Linked DNA regions of Homo sapiens: region 1 is linked to region 2. The links come from fine-mapping of genetic effects on gene expression. A gene starts in region 2. The other region holds a variant in brackets. All regions are shown on one strand. Distances are between the middles of the regions.

Region 1 (4,387 bases), 48 kb after region 2:
GTGTGAACAGAACCCAGCCCAGGCCTGGAACTGCTGTCTCCATTTTGAGAGGCTGAATCTTGTAAGGACTGGGGGTCCTGACTCCCTAAGTGGAACAGTGTCCTCCCTGGGGGAAAACTTATGAAGATCATAAGAGTCCTAGACACAAACGGCCCAAGCTTCCACAAAATGCACATTATCCCCTTTCCTCTCATTTAAAACACAGATGTGGCCGAGCGCAGTGGCTCACACCTATAATACCAGCACTTTGGGAGGCCGAGGCTAGCAGATCACTTGAGGTCAGGATTTCAAGACAAGCCTGGCCAACACTGTGAAACCCTGTCTCTACTAAAATTGCAAAAATCAGCTGGGTGTGGTGGTGTACACCTGTAATCCCAGCTACTCGGGAGGCTGAGGCAGGAGAATCACTTGAACCCAGGAGGCGGAGATTGCAGTGAACTGAGACCGCGCCACTGCACTCCAGCCTGGGCGACAGAGCAAGACTCTGCCAAAAAAAAAAAAAATTAAATTCAAAATAAAATAAAAGAAAACACAGATGTGCCTATGGAGGAAAGGGCACTAATATGAACTCAAGACCCTGCTGGCTCCTCCCTATACCCCTCCCGGAGCCTCAGTTTCCATTCTTCATAGCTGAACATGGGCTGTGGGATGCTGATTCCTGTTGGAAAGAAAGGGAAGGGACAGAATAATCACTCCTATTTACACGGCTCTCTAGAGTTTGCAAAGCAAAGCACTTCCACATCCCCTCCCTGAGCCCCCCCCAACTCCATTGCCACCCCCACGCTCCAGCCCCCGCAAGCCTGAAGTCATGTAGGAAGCGTCCTTTAGGCTGGGCTTGGCCTTGCTTTTCGTTTGGTTTCGGAGTCCCCGGTGAGAAGCAGATACCTCCAAGGAGTAACTAGTCAGGTATCATCCCACACCTGGTAAGTATTTGGGATCAGGGGAAGTGATACCTAAGAGGCAGCACAGAGAAATTAAGTGATTAGGCACACGCCTAGCGCCAGAGCAGGTGAGTGGCGCAGGGATGGGGAGTGATACCCAGACTCCATGTTGCAGTCAGAGGCCCAAGGCTTTTGGAAGAGCAGACCCAGGTTAATTATGTGCAATCTCATAGTGCCATTAGTTGACAAGTCAGAGACAGAGCCTTTCTTTCTTCTACCAAAGCCAGGCAGCTAGGGCAGCCAGAACACCTGGGCTGCAGCAAGAAGGAAGCCTTCCTGTATGCTCCACCCTCAACCGTGGAGCAGCTGGACAGGCCTCCCTACACTGCAGCTTGGGCTGGTTGTGGCTGGACTTGTCTAACCCTCTAACTTGTGCACCTCAAAGTCAGGGCTCCTCAATATTTTCTCTACCCCTGACAGGGTCCACCATTAAGCCATATTAAGGGACAAAGGAGAGACCTGAAGTCAAATCTGAAAATTTCAGATAAAGCAAGCCACCCAACAAAGAGGTCCAAAGTACATGATGGGATTGGAGAAATGCTGACAAGCGAAACTCGGAGAAGCCAAGCTGGCAGATTGATCTGGAAAGGTCAACAGGAACGAACGGCTATAATGAGGCTCAGTCTGTACATCACCAAGCCAATGGATTGGGTCCAGCGAGGATGCAAGATGTATTGAGTGTGGTGTGCCTCTTCTGCACACACCTGCGGCTCCCTGGGATTCGGGATGGGGAGGGACTGAGAGCTGTGACAAACCAGGTCAGGCCACAGACTCTGGATTTAGGACAATCAAAAAGTACACATACCTGGGGGAAGTGTCCAGGGAGGCTGGAAACTGACCCTGAGGCAAGACTGGAGGTGTCTAGGCCCACTGCTGCGGGCACTGGCTTGACAGTGCTTTTGAGAAAAACACAAAGTCTACACTGTTTGTCGTTTGTTTTTGTTTTTGTTTTGAGAGGTAGTCTGGCTCTGTTGCCAAGAGGCCAGAGTGCAGTGGCCCAATTTCAGCTCGCTGCAACCTCCGCCTCCTGGGTTCATGTGATTCTCCTGCCTCAGCCTCCCGAATAGCTGGGATTACAGGCATGCACCACCACGCCTGGCTAATTTTTGTATTTTGTAGAGACGAGGTTTCACCATGTTGGCCAGGCTAGTCTCAAACTCATGACCTCAAGTGATCCGCCACCTTGGCCTCCCAAAGTGCTGGGATTACAGGCGTGAGCCACCACACTCGTCCCACACTGTTTTTTGTCCTGGCCCTGACTCACTTGTCCTGATTTCTCAAGAGAGGGACTTTCAGAAAATGAAAAAAAAGAGAACTTTACTAAAGATCTTCAGTATTGGTCAGAAGAGAACCCATCCTCTCTCAGCAAGGATGGGAGACGGCGAAGAGATACGCTTCATGGGAGAGGGACAGCAGAGCATCAGCAGGAAGGGGAGCGACAATGTCCCCAAGACCACAGACACCTGTCAGGTGTGTTTGGGAGGGCCTGGCCCCCACCAAGTCTACAGAGTTGAGGCTTGCTGGTCGAAGTCATGATCTTTGTCCAAGCCTTGGATGGTCACCCTTTCTCCATAAACCTCCGTCCCACACTGAAACACTCCCTGTGTGTCTTTGAACAAGTCCTTCCTCCTCTGAGCCCCATCTCAACCAAAAAAGAGAAATGAACTTGCACTGAGCTCCCTCCCAGGGCTCCATGAACATCTCATGAGATTCGAACCCCTAGCTCTGGGCTATCACAGCCCCATC[C/T]TTTATGCATTCCATCGTCATCGTAGGATGTAAGCCCGAGAGCCCTGGCACTAAATGAGAGCTACTCACTGAGAACAGCTTGGTGCTGAGACCCTGGGGCATGCAGAGGGCCAGGAAGTGGCCAAGGCAGGGCAGAGCCACTTGTTTTCCCTGAGATGGTCTGCCTGGGCCCTAGCATTTCCATGACTGTCGTATCAATGCTGAGATCCCAGAGGTCCTGGGAGGAGCCATTGTTCTCCCTTTACTAAAGTGACCTGAAACCTTGGACAGGCTGCCAGTGCTCCCTGGCCTTTTAATTTTTTTTTAATTGTTATTATTATTATTTTTTTTTTGAGATGGAGTCTCGCTGTCTCCCAGGCTGGAGTGCAGTGGTGCGATCTCAGCTCACTGCACCCTCTGCCCCCCGGGTTCAAGACATTCTCATGCCTCAGCCTCCCGAGTAGCTGGAATTACAGATGTGAGCCACCATGCCCAGTTAATTTTTGTATCGGGTTTCACCATATTGGCCAGGCTGGTCTCAAACTCCCAATCACAGGTGATCCACCCACCTCAGCCTCCAAAAGTGCTGGGATTACAGGAGTGAGCCACCGCACACAGCCTATTCATTCAGTTTTGAGACAGGATCTCGCTTTGTCTCCTAGGTTGGAGTACAGTGGCACAATCATGGCGCACTGCAGCGTCCACCTCCTAGGCTCAAGCAATCCTTACCCCAGCCTCTTGAGTAGCTGAGACTGCAGATGCATACCACCACACCCAGCTAATTTTTAAAAGCTTTTTACAGGGATGGAGTCTTGCTATGTTGCTCAGGCTGGTCTCAAACTCCTGAGCTCTACCGATTTTCCCCCATCAGCCTCTCAAAGCCCTGGGATTACAAGTGTGAGCCACCACACCCAGCCTTCCTCAGCCTTTCTGCTCCTCACTGCCCTGTAGCAGAGTCCACTGGGTCCTCAGTGCCCAGCTGAGCTTGTGCAGGAAGCCCCAGCTCTGGGTCTTACTGCCTCACCCCTAACCAACTCCTACCATACTTCAGGGCATGGCTCAAATGTCACTTCCCAAAGGACATTGTTCCTGATCACCAGACTGGCACAAGTACTCTCCCGTGGCCCATACTTCTTCATCATAGAATTTATCCCTGCTTATAATTACATGTTTGTGTTTGGCTTACTTGATTTCTGAGCTTTCCCCCCATCATGCACGTACATAAACACACACATACACATAGACACTGTTAAAACAAATGAAAACCGAGGTCAGGCCTGCAGATCCCTTAAGCAAACAAAACTAGTCAGGCTTCATAAGTGACCTAAACCTTGCTTAACTTGAAAACATAAGTGGCCTGGGCCTATCTTCCACTTCCACACTAGAAGGTTTTCAGGCTCACACCTGTAATCCCAGCCCTTTGGGAGGCCAAAGCAGGAGAATTGATTGAGCCCAGGAGTTTGAGACAAACCTGAGCAACATAGAAAGACCCCCCCTCTACAAAAAATAAAAGATAAAAAATAATTAGCTGAGCATGGTGGCTCACACCTGTAGTCTCAGTTACTGGGAAGGCTGAGGCAGGAGGGTCCCTTGAGCCCAGGAGTTGGAGGCTGCAGTGAGCTATGGTTGTGCCATTGCACTCCAGCCTTGATGACAGAGTGAGAATCTGTCTCTTAAAAAAAAAAAAATTAAACAACCAAAAAAACGTAATGGCTGGGCAT
Region 2 (4,387 bases):
ACTGACACCCCCAGGGCCCTCAATGGGAAAAAGAGCCAGTGATAGCAATGCTGGGGGCATATCCCACACCCGTTCCATGCTCCCACCTCAGCCTCAGCCATAGGCCACTCACCCAAGCTTGACTAAACGTCTGAAGACTTCTCACCAGGAGGTAGCGGCAGGTCTGGCACCCAGGGATGCCCACCACTTTTACTGTGTCCTCTTCCTCAGGACACGTAAGGTTTTTGTCCACCATATCTGGCACTGAGATAGACTCAACAGCCCCATCTTTCTTGGAGGCATCTTCACTTCCAGAGCCCCACTCCTCCTCTTCCTCCAGCTCCCTGCAAGGGGTCTCCTCCATCTCCTGCTCTGGTGTCTCCTCATCCTCAGGCAGCGTCTTAGCACCCAAAGGGGTCTCAAAGGTGGAAGTCTCAGACCCTGGCAGGGAGGATAGCTAAGTGTCCTTCCTTCACATCTCCCCTTGTTCCTCCCCAGAACCACAGACAGCTCACACCTTGCCCTGGGCATCAGAGTGCTCAACTCTGCCTGGGAAGGGGAACCTGGAACCCAGTCTCTATGAGGGGAACCCAAGCTGCCTGACAAGGTCAAGGTGGTTAAGAGCATGGACTTAGAGTCGGGCAGTCATGGGCTTGGGTACTGGTTCCATCATCCACCAGCTGTATTTCTGTGAAATGGGTATACAATACCACCTACTTCATGGCGATGCTAAGAGAGTTAAAGGAGAGAAGGCACTCAGTAAGCTCAAAGTAAGCATAATGGAGAAAGGACAAAATTGGGAATGTCACAGTAGAACCAAGACCACAGACATAACAGACGCCTTGAGAAATCCTTTCAACTCCTGGCCATAGAGTCCCCATCCCTTTAAGCACACAGAAATTCAGAAATAGAAGACGATCAAAGAAGGGGGTGGGTGTGTAACTCTGACCCCATCTACCATAGAAAGGGAAAAAACAGAGAAAGAAAGACTGAAGGCAAAAAACACTTACTTAGATGAAGAGCAGAAACTGCCCCAAATAGAAGAGCCAGAAGTAAGGGGAGTTTCATCTTGGCTTTATCCTGCAACGGAGAACACAGTTTGTCATTGACACACACAGACACACATGCACACACATCACAATCACACCATTAGGGGACCGTGGGAGTGAGGTGGAGAAAAAGAAGGCCTGAATAGAAATCAGGATGGGCCAGAAAAGCTCATGCCAAGCCCAGCTCCTGATGCTCCAGGATCCAGGACGCAAGGACCTCTTTCTAAACAGAACGCAGCAAACCCTGAGGGGTGGCTGAGGCTGGCTTTCCTTCAGGCCCGGAAGTAAAGAAGGGACTATTACGCTTATTTGTTTGTACTTAATGGGTCCCTCAGAGTCTATGACATAAAAAAGGCGGGAGAAGCAATGATTATTGGCTTTCCTAGGAACACATAGGACTTAGAAGGTATGTCCCCTCCTCAGAGTTCAAGAAGCCACCCACACCCTCCTCCATGTCTCCACCATCTCCTTTCCCCAGCCAAGGAGCACTTTCACATCCCGCAGAAGGAATGTGCAAGGCAGAGGATGAAGGCTGCCCCTGCTGACATCCTCATAACCTGAAAGCCACAGGTAGACGCCTGCCAGCCCTCCAGAAACTGTCAGCCACAGCCAGGGACCTCCTGGGAGAATAAACTGTCACCAGCTCCACCACAGCAGAGAAAGCACTCACCCACCCAGAGACCTTCCTGGGTCTTTAGATCTTCCCAAAGCCCAGGTCCTTCTTTGCTTCCTCTCACAAAGACTTCTTATATAGAGGCCTTGGAGGAACTTCCCCCAGGGAGAGAGAGTTTGCCTCTGTCAGAGGGAGATAGCAAGGCTGATAAGGACCATTTCATCACTTCCCTGGGGAGCCCACTCATTCATTCAGTGAAGATTTCTCTCCCGATACCCACTTCAGGAACCCAGGGGCCATCTGGAACAGCTCTGGGCAATGGTTCTTATCCTGGGCTACACTTCAGAATCGCCTTGGGTGCTTTTCCAAAATACATATCTCCCCTGTTTTACTGGTGTTTTGAACTGCCACAAACATTTTGAGAACAAATCTGTCCATACCTATTAAAATAAAAAAATGCACATTTGATCAGTTTCACTCTTTTGAGACTATCCTTTAGGCATAAATGCGCCTATAAGTAATAAAACTTTTACAGAGTTATGTTATTCCTTGACTATTTGTAGAAATGAAAACAATATTGATATCCATCAATCGGACACTGAGTAAAATGTGTCCTCTCTATTCTACAGAATGTTATATGGCTATGAAAAGAAGAGCTGGACCTGTATCTATAAACCTGAAGAGATGTTTCTGTGACATGAAGTGAAAAAAGGCAAGATACTGAGGAAAGTATTTAGTATGTGAATAGTTTTACAAGGAAAAAAAAAACCCCCGCATAGGTGCTTATCTGTGAGCATCCTTATGTGACCATTGATGGAGGGAATGCTAAAAGGAATCACACCAAATAGTTGACCTTGTTGCCTCCAGAAGCAGGGGAGGAGAGGGAAGAAAGCAGGAGACAGATTGTTGTTTATCTTCTTTTTATAACTTTGCATTTCTTCAGTGGTTATGGTAAATGCGTGCTGAATCTGTAATTTTGAGGCTGCCTTATTAAAGATTTTTAAAAATATGCAGATGCCCTGCCCAGAAACTTCTGCTTGGCTAATAGGTCTAGCGTGAAGGTCAGATGTCTGCATTTTTTTAAAAGCTTCCCAGCTGACTGTGATGGAAGATGGGTCTAGGAGTCACTGTCCTGAGGATCTTCAAGTACAGGAAATGTTCACGTATGTCTAACTTCTTTCCTTCTGAATCAGACCACTCAGTTGGCCAACCTACCAGCCTTCATTATGGTAACATTTACTGAACATTTTTAAATGCCATGCATGGCAAGTGGCTGGATGCAGTGGCTCATGCCTGTGATCCCAGCACTTTGGGAGGCTGAGGTGGGTGGATCTTTTGAGGTCAGGAGGTTGAGACCAGCCTGGTCAACATTGCAAAGCCTTGTCTCTACTAAAAATACAAAAATTAGTCAGGCATAGGGGTGGCTGCCTGTAATCCCAGCTACTTGGGAGTCTGAGGCAGGAGAATCACTTGAACCCAGGAAGTAGAGGTTGCAGTGAGCTGAGATTGCACCACTGCACTCCAGCTTGGGCGAGAGAGTGAGACTCCGTTTCAATCAATCATCAATCAACAAAATACTGTTCATGGCAAGTATTACCTCATTTAACCTGATTTTAAAAACCTAGTGAGGTAGGTGGTTGATACCCCATTTTCCAAGTGAGACAACCCAGGCTCTGTGTGGCTCCTGATCTCCCCGCAACACTGCCCTTATTGGATCGATGCCCTGTATACACCCTCTTGTAGCTCCAGGGGCTTGTCCTTATCAGTTAGTCATTTTACTTTTCTTGTGAGATTACTTGGTTAATGGATTAACATCTGTCTTCCTTCGTGATGGTGAAGGCTGCATCTCTTTACTCACCATTGTATCCTTGGTGCTTAGTACAGTGCCCGGCACATAGTAGGTACTTAATAAATATACATTGAAGTAATTAATGGTTAAGTAACGTACTCACGTAAACAACAGGGTTAGAATTCAAATCCAGTTCTTTCTGGCACCAAACTTCTCTCCCCTCCCATATGCCTGCTTGTGTGTCAAAAATGATGCTATCCAGGTGGAGATAAAATCAGAGTGAAGCATAGATCCTGTATTCAATTAGCTTACAACCTAATTTGTAAGATGAGTAAATTGAGGTCAAACAAAAGGAGAAGGGTTAAGACCAAGCTAGGAAACATCCTCTGCTAATTCAGAAGGAAGTCCATGCATAGTAAAACAGAGCAGAAAAGGCTCCATGAACCAAGGAGCTGATTCCTACCTGGATGGAAAGATGCAATTAGAAGGGAAGGAAACAGGCATTTCAAGTAGAAGGAACAGCTTGAGCAAAGGTGTGGAGGTTGGACAGCCTTGGTATATGCACAGGACACTGTAATTTCCTTCATAACTAAAGTTAACAGTACACACATTGGGAAGGAATGAGAAAAACGAGGAACGATGCATTTCATCTTGAGCCGAGGATGGAGATAACCCTCCCCTGTCTCCATTGATTTAAAAAGACAGAAGCAGGAATCAAAGGAATACTCAACAAGAGCCTAGTCAGGAGCTTTGAGCTGGGCTCTGCGCACTCCCATCTGCAAGCCCTCCCCACAGGACCTCTTTGGCTGTTGGACAGAGGATTACTGTCATAAGGTGATGAGAGGGAGCCCATTCTTGGAAACCAGTTGACTGTTCAGGGACCCTCACTCCTAGGGAAGTCTCTCTTTTAGGTCATACAATCCAGGATCTGAAATCCACAGCTTAGCAACCCTGAAA

Alleles and levels. Alleles are on the strand shown, and positions count from the first base shown. SD is a standard deviation of normalised expression in the study named.
For the expression in thyroid of the gene that starts at base 1,753 in region 2, allele T in region 1 goes with a higher level than allele C (small effect, 0.20 SD a copy in GTEx).

Evidence for each region. PIP is the estimated chance that this variant, and not a neighbour inherited with it, causes the effect. A credible set is the group of variants that fine-mapping cannot tell apart.
Region 1: its variant is the best candidate, but not a certain one, in a credible set for the expression of PRG2 in thyroid (GTEx, PIP 0.51).

What each region holds. Positions count from the first base shown.
Region 1 is chr11:57,437,287-57,441,673 of GRCh38, forward strand. No RefSeq gene overlaps it. Among named protein-coding and RNA genes, the nearest start is that of SLC43A3, 12 kb to the left of the region's middle. The variant C/T (reference allele first, on the strand shown) is at 2,688.
Region 2 is chr11:57,388,898-57,393,284 of GRCh38, forward strand. It overlaps PRG2 (proteoglycan 2, pro eosinophil major basic protein), which reads right to left and starts at 1,753. Exons shown (of 6, transcript NM_002728.6): 1 at 1,699-1,753; 2 at 990-1,059; 3 at 113-420. The coding sequence starts at 1,047.